Linked DNA regions of Homo sapiens: region 1 is linked to region 2. Evidence: fine-mapped expression QTL. Tissue or cell type: whole blood. Region 2 holds a variant in brackets; the other region holds the start of a gene. All regions are shown on one strand. Distances are between the middles of the regions.

Region 1 (8,178 bases), 49 kb after region 2:
CAAACATGGCAAAACCCCAGCTCTACTAAAAATAAAAAATAAAAAAATGAGCCGGGTGTGGTGGTGGGCCCCTGTAATCCCAGCTACTGGGGAGGCTGAAGCAGAAGAATCGCTTGAACCCGGGAAGCAGAGGTTGCAGTAAGCCAAGATCGCACCACTGCACTCCAGCCTGGGCGACAGAGCAAGACTCCACCTCAAAACAAAAAACAAAACAAAAAGACTTCTCTAAGCTAACTCATACCACACTGAAGACAATATATCCAGGTAGGTCCACTTACCAGACTCAAAAGCAACTAAAAGGAAGTTTTGCTTAGTGCTAAAATGTGGGAATTGTTAAACCTTCTAAAATGATTGTAGGAAGGCAGATGTTGGGAATAGCAAAGGGAATTATGCCCAGAGGTTACTGCAAAAGCCCCAAATTATACAGCAAAGACTATAGAAGCCCATAATTAACTCCAATCAACAATGAGGACAAAGGCATATACCCTTTGGCAAAAGACTGAAATTTCTCACCATTTCCAGGTCCTACCAATCAAAACAAGAGAACAAGCTAAAAATCCAAACTCATCCTCCCACTATTGCGGACTTAGGAGGTGCAGATCCACAGAAATCACAACTACCCTGGCCAGACTCACCAAGTTTCTCACAGCTGCGAGGCTGCCAGCAAGACTGGCACATAGTAAGCTGTCGAAAAGCTCACAAGCAGCACCAAATCCTAAGCATTAAAAAATTTACCAGCTCAGTCCTATTACTTATCTTCTAAAAAGCACAAAATATTCCATCTAGATTTCTCTTCTCAACAATCTACTCTTATAAGGACAGGAACAAGACAGTCAACGCTCACCCATTTTACAGATGGGGGAAAAAGGGAAGCATGAAGGTGACAAATTTGGTCATCTCCTAGCTGATGTTGGAGTTTACACGGAATCTAGACTTTCACATTCTCTATACAGCATGCTGCCTCCAAACAGCAGTCAACCAAACGTTTATACACAAATAACTAGCTCTTCTCCAATTCATCAAAAAAAGCCCTTGGACCAAAAAATGTAATTCTCCAGTGCCCTGAACTAAGCTTCTTTGCAAAGCTACAGCCCAATTTGCTCTGCAGCAGAAATCTGTATTGTGCTTAGTGTGAGGGTTGGTGACAGAGCAGCCAATGACCATTAAATTCTGCTTCCAAAGGCAAAAAACCGTATAATGTCATATGCCTTTTCCTCTTCCTAATCTATTAGACGTAGCAGCTAATTTCACGCCACACCTCGTATTTGGCGTCTCTGGAATCTCAGACGAACTCCTGGTCAATATGGAACAAAGGCAAGACAAACCACAAGAAAATTAGCAATCTATCCTATGTCATTACCCATAGCTTTAATCCCGCCCTCCCCTGCATCTGATGAAAATTTCATCTGTGCTGGTAAGTGGAGCATCGAATACAGAGCCTACCACAAAAAAAGCTGTTTCAGCAGCCACCCACTTTTCAAGATCTGAACTCCCAGCATGAATTCACTGGGAGGCAAAGCAGAAACACTGGCCTACCTAAAGGGACAACACACTGATTTCTTTAGAAAGTTTGGATTTGGCCTCATCCCCAAGATAAGCCCATGGCACAGCTGTTCAGAAAGGGCAAGAAAGCCAAATCCACCCAACATTTTCTTGTTGGAGTACCCAAGTTCCCTTGAAAACAGAAGTCTATGGATGAGTGGTTCCCAGTTCAGGATCAACTGGGGAGCTTTTAAAAAGTTCAAACTCTTAGGCTTTTCAAAAAGCTCCCCAAGTGATCTTAGTTCACAGTAAGGTTATCAATTTATACCTGTTCTTTAGCTTTGGTTTATGGCTGCCAGTATGTCTCAAGAATCCATCACGTAAACCACAACAAAACCCATTCCAATCTTTCTGAGAACCCAAAGAAGTACAAACCACAATGGCAGTTACTACAAGGTAACTAATTTCACTGACACCAAAGTTGACAGCTTTGTAAACCAACGCTACAGATGTAACACTGGATGCCGAAGATCAGTCCACCCCTCAGAAATGCAGGAAAAAAACTCAACGTCTATGTTTGGAATTTTCATCAATCGGCCTAGAACTCATGTACCTGTCTCTACCTTGTCTATATCTTACTGGTACTTAGAATTCTCAAAAGGCTTTGAGAGAGCGCAAAGCTATTTTCTCGAGACAGGCTCTCACTCTGTCACGCAAGCTGGAGTGCAGTGGCACGATCACTATTCACTGCAACCTCCGCCTCCTGGGCTCAAGTGATCCTCCTGCCTCAGCCTCCCGAGTAGCTGGGACCACTCCCGCCTAATTTTTTGTATTTTTTTCGTAGAGATGGGGGCTAATTTTTTGTTTGTTTGTTTTGTAGAGATGGGGTTTCGCATGTTGCCCAGGCTGGTCTCAAACTCCTGAGCTCAGGTGATCCGCCCTCCTCGGCCTCCCAAAGTGCTGGGATTACAGGTGTGAGCCACTGTGCCCGGTCTGCTATTTTCTATTCTCAGAGACAGTGGTCAGCACCCAAGTTTGATATGCCAAGTTCATCTAAGGGAACAACCAGGAAAACAGTAAAACTTTGAATAGAGGTGTCCAATTGATTGCTGGCCTACAATTGCATTTGAAGATTCTCCTGTCATTTGCATGCATGAGTGTGAAGGGAGGTGCGGTGCTGGTACACAGAATAAGCAAGGCGGTCAAGGTGCAACACCAGCTTTTTGCCCCAAAGGCCAAACACTTCCAGCAATCTCCCTTCCAGGGACAATGGCACACAGCCGCCTTGGAAAAACTTAAAAAGCCATGCCAGGATGGGGATGGGAGGATGGTCTGAAACCATCTTCCAACAAGACAGATGCAAACCAGCTGAGAAGTGTCACGGAGTGTGCACTCTTTAAGAGTGAAAGCTGTTTCCACAATTAGCGCTGACCTTATGCGAGATGTTACCACCTTTGGTCCCAAGTCTCTGCCTCCTCCTGAAGACCCTATCTTAAGAACTGTCAGGATCGCGATAGCAATAGATAAAAAGGGAAACCAAACAAGAAAAGGAAGTTTGTCGGCCAGCCCCCGGCCGGTCTCACCTCCCCGCGTCCAGCTCCCGGCCCGCAGAGCCTCCCATGTCTGTCAGGCTCGCAGCTGAAGCAGCCAGCTCTCCAGAAGGCCTCTTGCCGGTCCCATCCCCACCGCCGGAGCCACCGTTGCAGCTCTTGGTGCGAAAGAGGCGACTGAGGCGGATTTTGAAGGAGCCCTTCCGAGAAGGACCCGCGAGTGGCCGGAGGGGCCCGGGAGGAGGCGGGGGCGGGGGAGGTTGCTGCTGCTGCTGCTGCTGCTGCTCCCCTCTACTCAGGCGCCCCAGAGGGACCAAGTCCTGCAGCGGGAAGGGCACCGGAGGTAATTCAGGGCCTGGGGGCTGCAGCAGAAGCCGGCCGCCCCCTCCTCCTCCGCGACCCGGGCTGCTGAGCTCCTCTTCCGAGCAGCTGTTAGTCTCCAGGCTCTCGGCCTCCGATTCCAAGCCCTCCAGGACCAGCAGCGCGTCGCTCGTTTCCGTGGGGTCCTCCCCGGCCTGCGGGGCGGCAGCAGGCGGCTGGGGCTGCGGAGGGGGCGGCTGAGGAGGACACGGACACGGGCAGCAACCCCCACCGACTGTCTTGACCCCCGGCCCCGCCGGCTGCCCGAGCCCCAGAGCCGCCAACTGCGCCTCTAGTCCAGCCGCCGGGCCCCAGGTCCGCTCGAGCGCCAAGCCCGGCGGCAGGGCCTTGGGGTCCAGGGCACAGCGGTGCCGGGGACACAGCAGTTCCGAGGGTCCCGGCTCCGGGGCCGCCTCCACGTCCTCCTCCTCCGGCGGCCGACCCACGTTGCGGAACACCATCAGCTGCGGCGGCCGGGAGCCCCGCGGGCCGGGCCGCGCGAGGAAGGGTGGCGGCGGGGGGCCATGGCCCGGGGGCGGTGGCGGAGGGCCTGGCTCGGGGGCCGCCTCTCCATAGCCAAGGAGGCGGCTCAGGACGCGGTACGAAGCGGCCGCCGCCGCCGCCTCGCCATCCCGGAGCTCGGCCTCCTGCATCGGGGAGAGGGAGGGAGGGCGGGCGGCTGGGAGCCGGGCTGGGGTGGGGACTAGGCCGGGCCCCGCCGGAGCCCCGCCCGCCGCGGCCCCCGGAGCGACAGCGCTAACGGCCGCCGCGGCCTCTGCCTCATAGAGGGGGGCGGGGGGCGCGCGGAGCCCAGCGCGAGCCCAGGCCGCGCTCCGCCACCGCCGAGCACCGCCCCCAAGCCGACGTCACTTCCGGAAGGGCTTAGCCACGCCACTTTCCCCAGGGCGTGCTCGCGCTGGCCTCCACGGCGAGTGACGCCGCGCGCGCCCCCGGCCCCTATTGGCGGTGAGCTGTCTGTTGGCTGGCGTTGGTCTCTTTTCCCGGTCCTTGCTTTTCACTTCCTGGGCGCCCAGGCCCAGGCCATCCCATTCGGTAGAGTGGAGAGGCCTTGGAAACCATGGTCTGGTCCTGGGAGCGCGCCGCTGGCCTTGGGAGCACATATGGTTCTGCCATCTACGCCGCTTGCGATGTGTGACCTTGGCTGAGTCATTTCATCATTAATCTGTATCTCCGTCCGCCTGGCACCCAGTGAATGTTTGTGGAATCAGTACATGAATCGTGTTCTAGACCCAGTGCTGTACTGATAAATGTGTAACAACCAGCTCTCTGGGGGGAGAACGGGAATGTATGCACATATATAGGTACAAAAATTTGTCGTTAAGTTTTACTGACATAAAGGATGTGTAGTTCACAATTTACAATTAATAGTAAATTGGCAAATTCCATATAACTCTTTCTCACAGAATGCTTTCATTGATTTTTGCCAAACTCTTATATGGGTAGCCAAACTGTGATTGCAGTTGACCTAGGAGTGTAATTGTAAAGGTGAATGTTGGTTGATAAAACTGAAAAAGACAAAACTTAATTGGATTGTCAATGATGGGAGCAACTTCTTTGCTGAGTCAGAAAACGGTTTCAAATACTGGAAGAATATTTACTCAATTTTTGTGCTATTCATAATGTAACGGCTACAGACAACACATTAAGTTTTTGCTGTTGTTGAGATGGAATCTTTCTCTATTGCCCAGGCTGGAGTGCAATGGCGCTATCTTGGCTCACTGCAACCTCTGCCTCCCGGGTTCAAGCAATTCTCCTGCCTCGCTCCAGGTAATTTTTTGTATTCTTAGTAGAGACAGGGTTTCACCATGTTGGCCAGGCCAGTTTTGAACTCCTGACCTCAGGTGATCCACCCGCCTTGGCCTCCCAAAATGCTGGGATTACAGGCGTGAGCCACCGCGCCCACGCCCGGCCTTCTTATCTTTACACAGGGATAAGGATTGCAATTTTGCTTGCTTGCAGGCATGTTGTGAGGATCAAATAAGATCAAGCTTTTTGTGTGGAGGAGGTGAGACTGGAGGCAGGGAGCCCATTGAAATAGTCCCAGTGGGAGATATTGAGAGATGCAAGGGAAAAGGAGGAAGGATCAGCTGCAGAACTCAGTGACTTCTAATACCTGAGGGTGCATTGAGGGGAAGAGGGTGGAGGGTTGAGTCCTGCAACCAGAGGGACCTTTTCAGAATGGAAATGTGTTCATAGCCTGTGATTAAAATTGTTCATGGCTTCCCATTGTTCTTAGGCTAATGTGTGATCTTGTGATCTGACCCCTGTGTGATCTAACCCCTGCCTCTCTAGCCACATCCCCTGCTAAGCTCCACCTTGTTCTCTGTTCCCTGCATTCCCATCAACCTTGCGGCAGGCTCCCATACATGTGGGCAAGAAAAGCTATTCCCTTTTCTTGCAAGACTTTTCTCTTTTTGCTTAGTAAACTCCTACTCATCCTTCAGATTGAACTCACTCCTCACTACCTTAGGGAAATCTCCCTGCCTGGGCCCTTCCTCCTCCCCAGGCTCTGAGATCATTCCTTTGTTGCACTTACTTGCGCAGGTGTAATTTGCAATCTGTCTGTGGGGTCAGTTGATTAAAAGCTGTCCTCCCTACAAAACTGTAAATTCTATGAGGGCAGAAGCCATGTTTGCTTTTTGCCCCTTGGGGACTCTCCAGTGCCAAGGACAGTGCCTGGAATTGTTGTTCAACCTTAAGCCCTGTAAGAGTCTCCTGAGACAAATTCTGCACAACAGAATTAATTATCTTTCCTCACACATAAAGAGACAAAGTAAACCTCAGTGAGTTATTTAGCTAAAGTCACTCAATTCAAAAGGATGCAGTGAAAATCAAAACCAGCTCTGACTCCAGATAGTTCATTCTCTTCCCCTGGCTGCCTCTCAGGTGTCACTCAGGTTTCTGAAGAAAAGAAGAGCGATTGAGAGGGGCATGTTTACCCACGTCTGTAATTCCAGCGCTTGGGGAGGCCAAGGCAGGTCTTGGATCACTTGAGGCCAGGAGTTTAAGGCCAGCCAGGGCAACATAGCAACACTCTGGCTCTACAACAAATGTTAAAATTAGCCAGGCATGGTGGTGTGCCCAGATGTGGTCTCAGCTACTCAGGAGGCTGAGGCAGGAGGATTGCTTGAGCCCAGGAGGTGGAGACTGCAGTGAGCTGTGATCACACCACTGCACTCTAGCCTGGGTGACAGAGCAAGACCGTGTCTCTATATAGATAAATGAATAAAAGAAGAGAAATTGCTATAGAATCACACAACACCTGAGGCCTAAGAAGACTACCCAAGATCCCCAGCTTTCTCTCTGAGAAACTCTCTGGCCTCAGAGCCCATTACAAGCTGATTACAGGCAAGGTCCCTGGCTCTTCATCGCCCTCTGCTGTCCAGCTGCTTTCCTGGCCGTGGGAGAAGAGGACTGTGTGGGTTATCTGGAGTATCTCTACTTGCACGGAGTGCACAGAGGTACAGAGGAACACACGCGAGCTCTTTCTAAGGCAGGGCAAGCCATGGGGTAGACTTTTCCCATTTCCATAATTGTCCATTTCCGTAGCCCAGATCCTGGAAAAAACATTGAAAGTTAAATTCCAAGCAAAGAGGGTGTATCTTTGCATTTGTAGGACTTGAATTTGTGTTGGGGGTTGTTTGTTTGTTTTGAGACAGCATTTCATTCTTTTGTGTTTTTGTTTGTTTGTTTTGTTTTGTTTTTTTAGACGGAATTTTGCTCTTGTTGCCCAGGCTGGAGTGCAATGGCGCTATCTTGGCTCACTGCAACCTCTGCCTGCCAGGTTCAAGCGATTCTCCTGCCTCAGCCTCCCAAGTAGCTGGGATTACAGGCATGCGCCACCACGCCTAGCTAATTTTGTATTTTTAGTAGAGACAGAGTTTCTCCATGTTGGTCAGGCTCATCTCGATCTCCCAACCTCATTGATCTGCCTGCCTCAGCCTCCCGAAGTGCTGGGATTACAGGCGTGAGCCACGGCGCCCGGCCTCAGAGTTTCATTCTTGTTTCCCAGGCTGGAGTGCATAGGTATGATCTCGGCTCACTGCAACCTCTGCCTCCTGCGTTCAAGCAATTCTCCTGCCTCAGCCTCCTGAGTAGCTGAGATTACCGGCGCATGCCACCAGGCCCAGCTAATTTTTTTGTTTTTAGTAGAGACAGGGTTCCGCCATGTTGGCCAGGCTGGTCTCAAACTCCTGACCTCAATTGATCCACCTGCCTCAGCTTCCCAAAGTGTTGGGATTACAGGTGTGAGCCACTGCGCCCTGCCAAATTTATGTTTATTGAGCTGATTTTATGTTTAAATATACCTCTTTCACTGAGCACTATAAAAGTGGTCCTCAGCCGAGCGTGGTGGCTCAAGCCTATAATCCCAGCACTTTGGGAGGCCAAGGTAGGCGGATCACTTTAGCCTGGGAGTTTGTGACCAGGTTGGGCAACAAAGAGACCCAATGTTGTGAGGATGTCGTGAGACCTCGTCTCTACAAAAAATAAAAAAAAAATAGTTGGGCGTGGTGGCGTGCACCTGTAATCCCAGCTACTCAGGAGGCTGAGGCAGGAGAATCACTTGAGCCCAGGGGTCAGAAGTGGAGTGAGCTGTGTTCATGCCACTGCACCCCTGCCTGGGTGACAGAGTGAGAGACCCTGTCTCAAAAAAGTAAAACAGAAAATAAGGTGGGCACAGTGGCTCACGCCTATAATCACAACACTTTGGGAGGTTGAAGTGGGCGGATCACTTGAGCCCAGGAGTTTGAGACCAGCCAGGGCA
Region 2 (8,178 bases):
GGGAGCTCAGGACGAAACTCTGAGCGGGGCAGTGTGGTATGTGATGATCCCAGAGTCTGAGGAAGAGTGTCCTAAGTTCCTCACACTCTATCTCCAGGAGGAACTACGATCGCAGTCCAGCTGCAACCAAACATGCATGTCTTCCCGCCGTGGCTGGCTGCTTTCTGTCTGCCCCTCCAGGCCTCTTGGTGTTGCAGAGGAGGGGGTAGGAGAGGGAAAGGGAACGGTTCCAGGTCACCTCTAAACCCTCTAGAAATGAAATGGGAATGAAGCAGGTCACAAACTCAGCATGCAGGGCTGGCTTCCCGGGAGGTAGATGGGAGTGGGACGGGATAGCAGGTGTGGAGAGGACAGGAAGGGAAACAGGAAGAAACTGAGCGACACCTGCCAGGAAGGTCAAGAAGCAATGAAAAGGACAAAGACAATATGAAATCTGCATGAAAAGACAGGTCCTTTTCTGGCAGATTAGAGAATCAACATTTTCAGTACAACTCATAACGCTACTTTCCTAACTGCAGTACCCGAGTCCCCAGCGCCTGTCTCTATGATCCAACCCCCATTTCACTGCTCCCAAGACTTTGCTCTCCATTTTATCAAGGCCTCCAATCATTTTGTGCTGAGTGTGAAGGCTCCAATGTGAAAGCAGGGTCTACCACAGGGACGTGCAGACTTGACCTTTGTGACCCAATCATTTTATAGCTATCGCAGCATAGGAGGGGGGCACACTTTTCTTTCTTTTTTTTTTCTTTTTCTTTTTTTAATAAAAAAGGTTTTACTCCCCAGGAGCAAATAAATCATTTTGAACTACTGATAAACACTGCTGCAGTGAAAAGAAAGATGGCTACATGTATGCAATAGCACAAATTCAGTGGAAGAACAGCTGTGTTGACGATTAGAGATAAAAATCACTTATCCATTCCCTCCTTTCCCACAAACCAAACCGAGGATTCCCATAGGGAAAATGTCTAACTCAATAGCTCCTCCCTTACATGACAGGGGGTGTGTCATTCTCTTAACAGTGGAAAACAAATGCCAGGTCTCCGCCCAGTGGAGATGCTCTTAACACCCTAACTGGTAGCAAGACTTCTGCAAATGAGGACACACACACACACACACATGCATGCATATGCACACACACAGACTCAGACCTCCTTCCAGCAGCCATAGAGCTTTATCCCAGTGTCTTGTCCACTAACTTTAGGGCTCCAAAGCTAAGGGAGCGAGGCAGCAGGGAAGGGAAAGATCTAACTGAAGGAAAAAGCTCCTCCTCGCCCCAGTTTCTGCAGGGAGCAGAGGGCTTCAAGCAGGCCATGCTTTCCTGGGGGCCCTGGGGTGAGGGCTGACACGGCTGGATTCCAGGGCACTTCTGGTTCTACTCCCACCTCTCACCCCTAGACCTAGGAACTATAATTACCCCCACTCCCTAATTCTTCCTGGATGTCTGTTACAGGGGTGTCTGCAGCTATCTCCACACCATCCCCAACCTCAAGGGGGGCTTACATCATTAGCCCAAGTGAAATGTAGGGAAGGGGAAGGAGCAGGAGCCATGCAGGAGTTTCCTTTGGCCACACCTTTCTCCTCAGGGAGGTGGCGCCACCTCCATGGCTCAGGTTCCAAGATGTAACATTCACTTGGCCTAGGCACAGGCAGGTGACCAGGCAAAGGTCAGCACCAATGGTCCCAAAGAGCCGGTTGCCACCCACTTACCTAGTGCCCACACCAAAACCCCCGCCCGCCTACTCCTGTGCTACCAACATAGCACACGAATTTCAAGTAACAGCAAGTTGTAGCAGTAGTTGTCACTGGCTCACAGCAGCTCACTCTCAACCTGAGGAAGGTTACAGTAGATCAGTCATAAACAGGTGAGGGTTATGCAGGCACTGAGGCCACTGATATCACCCACCCACAACTTAGGAATCAACAGTGGGTCCCTAGATGTAAGCCTTTTCCAATTTGTGACTTGAAAATACAACCAGAAAGAAATTATTTATTTTTTTTGAGATGGAGTCTCACTCTGTCGTCTAGGCTAGAGGGCAGTGGCGCAATCTCGGCTCAGTGCAACCTCCGCCTCCTGGGTTCAAGCAATTCTCCTGTCTCAGCCTCCCAAGTAGCTGGGACTACAGGCGCATGCCACCATGCCCAGCTAATTTTTGTATTTTAGTAGAGATAGGGTTTCACTGTTTGGCCAAGCTGGTCTTGAACTCCCGACCTCATGATCCACCCACCTCAGCCTCCCAAAGTGCTGGGATTACAGGCGTGAGCCACCGCGCCCAGACCTAGAAAGGAATACATTTAAATGAGCTCTGCACAGCACTGGCGAAGGAGGGACGGGCCTGGTCAGGGAGGTGAAGGGCAGGTGCTGCCACACCTGCTCCTCTGCTCCATTTACTCTCTGACCAGGCTGTATCCCAGAGAGCTGGCCCAGCCCCATGCCTCCCCCTCATCTTCCCCTAACTGCTCTGTGCAAGGCCACCCATGCAGGCACCAAACACCCACACCTGACGAAGACTGTCTCCTCTTGCGCTGCTGTTTTGCAGCCCACTCCACAGAGAAAGGACTAGGCTGCGGCCAGGGCTGGGACCAGTGCACTGACACAGACACAGTTCAACACGACACTCCCCAGGAGGAGAAAGGTGGGTGGTGAGGTTGGGTCACACCTCCTCAGTTGGTTTGTTTTGTACCTGAATGTATGAGTTCTCCAGAAGAAACCCCAGTAACACAGGGGGTGCAGAGGCTCTGCCTCCCTCACATGGCCTGAGCTGACCATAGTGAGGCCCTGGCAATGGGCAGGAGCCTTGCTGACTCCTTTGGGCTTTGGGCTCCACCTCACCATCATAACCCCTTGGCACTCAGGTCTGCCTGGTGGCTGGGAAGCTTCCATCTAGAAAACCGCACTGGAAAGGATTCTTTAACCATGTTGCTCTAACAGGGCTGTGCACTGTTCAGTACATGCCATGCAGATTTCTGCTTCCTTGCTTTTGCTCATGTGTTTTTCATCTCACTGTCTGTCCTGCCATTGACTACAACCCAAAGCCTCAGAGGCACAGAACTTTCCCAGACCATCTGGTCTACCCTGATCTTATCTACTATAAACGTCTTTAGATAGTCCTTGATTTTCTGCTTGATGTGCAGCAGTCACCTAAAAGCTCCCTTAGGCCACATATTACGTCTTTTACCTTTTTTGTTTTCTACAATATCTAGCGCAAAGCCAGGCACACACACACTAAAAAATAATATTAAAATTATGGGTGGTTGAAAAGGAACAAAAAAAAGAAAGATCCCAGGCTGTATATCAGCCACCCAAGGATCTCAACAGATTCCAACTTCAGGCTCTATATTGGGGTGGCACTTCCTGCAAGATGGCGAGTTATATTACTTGTACTCTCACGAGGCAACACTCACATGCTAAGCCAATTTCTGGGATCACAATCTTGCTTAGTTGATAATACTACCATGGAAGCCAAGGAAAGAAGAGGTACCACATGACAAATCAGAGGTGGGCTGTGTTTATGGTGCACAGCTCATCTTGTGGGCCACCCTTCCACAGTCAGGTAATGGTGCAAGTTTCCTCCCTGTTCAGCTACAAGGAGGAAGACTGGTCACTCCACGTGGGACTAAGGAAGAAGGCAATGCTCCCAGATGAGGCAGTCCTATAAATTACCAGGACACTGGGGCCCCACCCAAACCATCAGGAAGCCACAAACCTGACATTAGTATCTGTCTTGTGACACGAGGCAACTATAAGCATGGGGAACCCAGAAAGAGAGTCCCATGGAACACACGCAAAGGAGTCATGAAGACCCAACAGCTCCACTGTTACATCTCAATAGCAAACCTCTCCCCAGAGCAGCTCTATAAGAAAGCAAACTCACAATGTCATATGAATTGGCCATGGCCAGCTGCAGAAACCATTAAAGACC[A/G]TTGGAGTTTTTCTCCCCGCTCCTCCTGAAAGCAGGGACAGGCAGCTCTCAAATCGGCATCTGGCAGACTTTCCAGTGAGTGGAGACCAGCAGGATCTGATCCGGAAATGTCTGGGTTGCTAGAATGAACACAAGAAAATACAGAAGCCCTTGCTACCTCCCATCCCAGAAGTGGGATGGCAGTGATAAACCTAAAAACGTGAGATGCGATGCTCTCCTCTGACCTAAGGAAATCCCGTGAGGGCTGCGTTCTGAGAGCTTCCTCTAGGAAGAGCACAACTGTGGGAGCTGTATTTCTCACCTTCCTCCACATTCCCCCTCACAAGCTGACAGGCACATGGAAGTAACACTCACTCCTAAGTCATGAGTACAGTTTGCCATGAAGAACCTGGAAACATGCTCCATTAAATTCAGCAGCCCATGACTGGCTCTGAACCGCCCAGGTGATGGGAAACACGATTGCCATGACAGCTGGCAGAAGCAATAGGGATGCTGTTACCATGATCAGAGTGACATGTACAGTTATCTCAAGGGGCAATGGGTTGAGAGCAGAGGAAGAACGGGGTTAACTTCAGGTCATGGAACTTAAGGAATTAAGTAAATCACAACTAGTACAGCTTCCATGAGAGGTGTTTCTGAACTCAGGTTCCTAAACCTTAAAAAAGGATGCAGGAGTCACTACTTCTCCCAGCTAAGGCCAATTGGCTAGGTTTTGCCCAATATTCTTTTCGAGACCACCCACCCTCCTTTCTCTCCTGCTCCTACAACAGCTGCCCATGGCAACAAGAGGCAGATTCCCCCTTCCTCAGGAACTCCCAGTCCTTTGCAAACCTCAAGCCCCTCCTCCCATCTTCCAGGCCCACAGCACAGACTCTAACTCTGCCTTTGGCACCAGCTGAATGGCCGTCCCCTGTTCCCTCCTCCCACCCCTTCTTTGGACCTGCTCACCCTTCGCACCACTTTCAATCCAACGGGCACAAACCCCAACTGCCTTCAAGGTGAGTTTTCCATACCAAGTAATATAAATATCAAAAACAAAACTTCTGAAAAAGAAACAGTGTTGAGACTTCTTCCAGTTTTCCAAGGAGCCCCTCCAGTCCTAAGATGCCCAGGGGTGGGTGTGAGGTGGAGCCCCACGCAGAGTACGGTCATGTGCTTCTTCCAAGCCCCAGGGCTGCGTGGGGAACCAAAGTCTCTGCACAGAGAATCCCAACCTTCCTGTTCCCTCACTTTTCCTCTTCTTTTCATGGTAGCTTAATTTGGTTCTTCAAAGCTGGAGCTTGGCAACCAAATGCCTAGGTAGAAAAGGAAAAAAAATTAAAACAGTTCAACAGAATAGAACCAAAATGGAGTGAAATAACAGCCAGCCACTGGAGGTGGAGCAGCACACCTCAAAAGGAGAACGGAGCCTGGAGAGCTGAACGCTTCCATGAGGGCCACATGTGACTAGGGATGCAGCAGTGGCCTTTGTCAGGGGGACCTGAGCAGCCTATGACTTGGATGACAAAACAAGGTCCTGAAATAACTAATAAATACATCCTACCACATTGCATAAATTCTCTCTTTCCCTTTCCCTTACCCCTTCATTTCCTACCCATTTTTTCCCTGAGGCTCAATTGCTCTAGGGACTGAAAAGGGAAGTAAGCCCCTGGAGTAACCCCTTTTGAACCTGGCAAGAAAGAGCTCTATATTTCTTTCTTTCTTTTTTTTTTTTTTTTTTGAGACGGAGTCTCGCTCTGTCACCCAGGCTGGAGTGCAAAGGCATGATCTTGGCTCACTGCAATCTCCACTTCCTGGGTTCAAGATTCTCCTGTCTCAGCCTCCCAAGTAGCTGGGATTACAGGCATGCGCCACCATGCCTGGCTAATTTTGTATTTTTAGTAGAGACAGGGTTTCACCATGTTGGCCAGGCTGGTCTCAAACTCCTGACCTCGTGATGAGCCCGCCTTGGCCTCCCAAACTGCTGGGATTACAGACGTGAACCATCACACCTGGCCAGAGAGCTCTGTATTTCTGCAGCTTCTGTCAACTGGACAGGGTTGACACAGAAACACAAAGGCCACTGTTGCTTCCACCTTCCGACTTGAGACAGGCACTGTTCTAGCCATTACTCTATAGTCTGACTCCAAACCCCCTGGCATGAAATTCCCCAGGTAACAGCACACATAGACCAAGCAGGCCATTCAGAACTCCCAAATTAAAATCAGCCTGAACAACAAGAAGTCATAAAGGCCAAATTTCATACCCTAAAGACCTTTCCCAATGGGGCACAGTGGCTCATGCCTGTAATCCCAGAACTTTGGGAGGCCAAGGTGGGTGGATCACTTGAGTGAGGTCAGGAGTTTGAGACCCAACTGACAAACGTGGTGAAACCCAGTCTACTAAAAATACAAAATTAGCCAGGCGTGGTGGTGCACACCTGTAATCCCAGCCTCCCACTGGGAGGCTGAGGTGGGAGAATTGCTTGAACCCGGGAGATGGAGGTTGCAGTGAGCCAAGATCACGCCATTGCACTCCAGCCCGGGCAACAAGAGCGAAACTCCATCTCAAAAAAAAAAAAAAAAAAGACCTTTCCCTTGGGAAGTGTTACTTCCTCCCTTTCCAGGGCTCCTAGGGTCTACACCAGGAGCAAGTTCAGCATTACGCTTACTCTTTGTCACAGGCATCAATACTGATGTCACAGCAAAAAGGGATCCTGGGAGTTCAGTTCAAACCTTCGCCAATATATGACTGCCCCCAACACTCAAGACAAATGGCTACCCACTGGCCTGTTCCTGATCATGCCACGTCCTTCCCAGCTGAGGCAGGGCCTTTATACCTCTAGGTCCCCTTGCCCAGAATGCTCTGCTCCAAGGCACTCCCATGGCTGGCTCCTTGATATTTGGGTATCGGCTGAAATGGCACCTCCTCACAAGTCTCTCCCTGACCATCTAAACTTGAGGAGTATCCCACCACTAATCACTAAACTTTACCCAGTTTTACTTTCCTCACAACACTGTACAGTCACCTGAAATTAGCCCATTCATTTATGTTCATGTTTGCTGCCTGTCTTTCCTTAGGAGAAGGGAAGCTGAGTGAAAACAGGGCCTTTGCTTTGCTCAGCACTCTATTCTCAATTCATACTGGGTGCCAAATAAACACAAATATACAGCTATCTGCTGAATGGAAGCTCTTGAGGAAAACCATCCCAGTTTTGGACCTCTCTGTTAAAAAGGTTCTTGTAAAGTTGGACTGAAATCTAGTTCCTTGTAACTTACATTCATTTTGGTCCTTATCCATGTCTCTTTTTGCTGTGACATGGGAGGGCCTTGGGGCAGAGCATTCTGGGCAAGGGGACCTAGAGGTATAAAGGCCCTGCCTCAACTGGGAAAGGTGTGGCATGATCAGGAACAGGCCGGCAGGGAGCCACTTGTCTTGAGTGTTGGGAGCAGTCATGCACTGGCAAAGGTTTGAACTGAACTCTCAGGATCTCTTTTTGCTGTGACATCAGGATTGTTGCCTGTGGCAAAGAATAAGCGTAATGCTGAACTTGCTCCCCACTGGAACCACAGAGAGGAGGTTAATCACTCTCTTCCTTAGGAAAACCCATCAAATGCATCTTTCAGCTATCCCTCCCTAAAACCTCCGTGCTCTGGGTTAATCACATTTCTTTCTAGGCCATTTATTCCCATATGATGAAGTTTGAGCTCTCCAATGCCACAAGGCCTTTCTCTGAACATGCTCCCTGTTTATATGGGTTCTTCTACAGCACTGCACCCACAGACGTGGTCCTCTAACTGAATGGCCTAATTACTCTTCAAGGGTAGTCAGGTAGGTGGACCTCCCTAGTGCTCTACCTCTCACCCTAATCTCAACTGCAAAGCCATCATGCAGAGAAATCCACCTAGACACAAGACATTAGATATTTAGTCATTTCCAAAGGCATACAATTTGCATATAATTGAAGACATGATGAGACTGTACATCTACTCCAGGATCCACACCAGAAGAAAGCAGTCACTGCACACTGGCAGTCAATCTTGCTTGTCACCACCACCACCAAAGTCATGGCTCCCTGGCAATTGTGTTCCCTACTCAGGAACTTGGCCCCACAATGTTCACTTTAGTGCAATTTAAAAGACTAATTGGAATTCATCTGCACAAACCAGTATTGCAAGATGTTTTATGGGAAAATAAATGGGTAGAACTGTGTAATGATGGGAGAAGAGCCTCGTAGATAAATGAATTCCTTAGTTTCAACAATTTACTTTGTAATGGC

The links. PIP is the estimated chance that this variant, and not a neighbour inherited with it, causes the effect.
Region 1: SOCS7 starts here. The variant in region 2 is fine-mapped to the expression of SOCS7 in whole blood (TOPMed, PIP above 0.99).

What each region holds. Positions count from the first base shown.
Region 1 is chr17:38,347,920-38,356,097 of GRCh38, reverse strand. It overlaps SOCS7 (suppressor of cytokine signaling 7), which reads right to left and starts at 4,254. Exons shown (of 10, transcript NM_014598.4): 1 at 3,066-4,254. The coding sequence starts at 4,045. It overlaps LOC124903991 (a long non-coding RNA gene), which reads left to right and starts at 5,102. Exons shown (of 2, transcript XR_007065738.1): 1 at 5,102-5,180; 2 at 5,373-5,639.
Region 2 is chr17:38,396,550-38,404,727 of GRCh38, reverse strand. It overlaps SOCS7 (suppressor of cytokine signaling 7), which reads right to left. Exons shown (of 10, transcript NM_014598.4): 10 at 1-5,215. Among named protein-coding and RNA genes, the nearest start is that of ARHGAP23, 28 kb to the left of the region's middle. The variant A/G (reference allele first, on the strand shown) is at 3,921.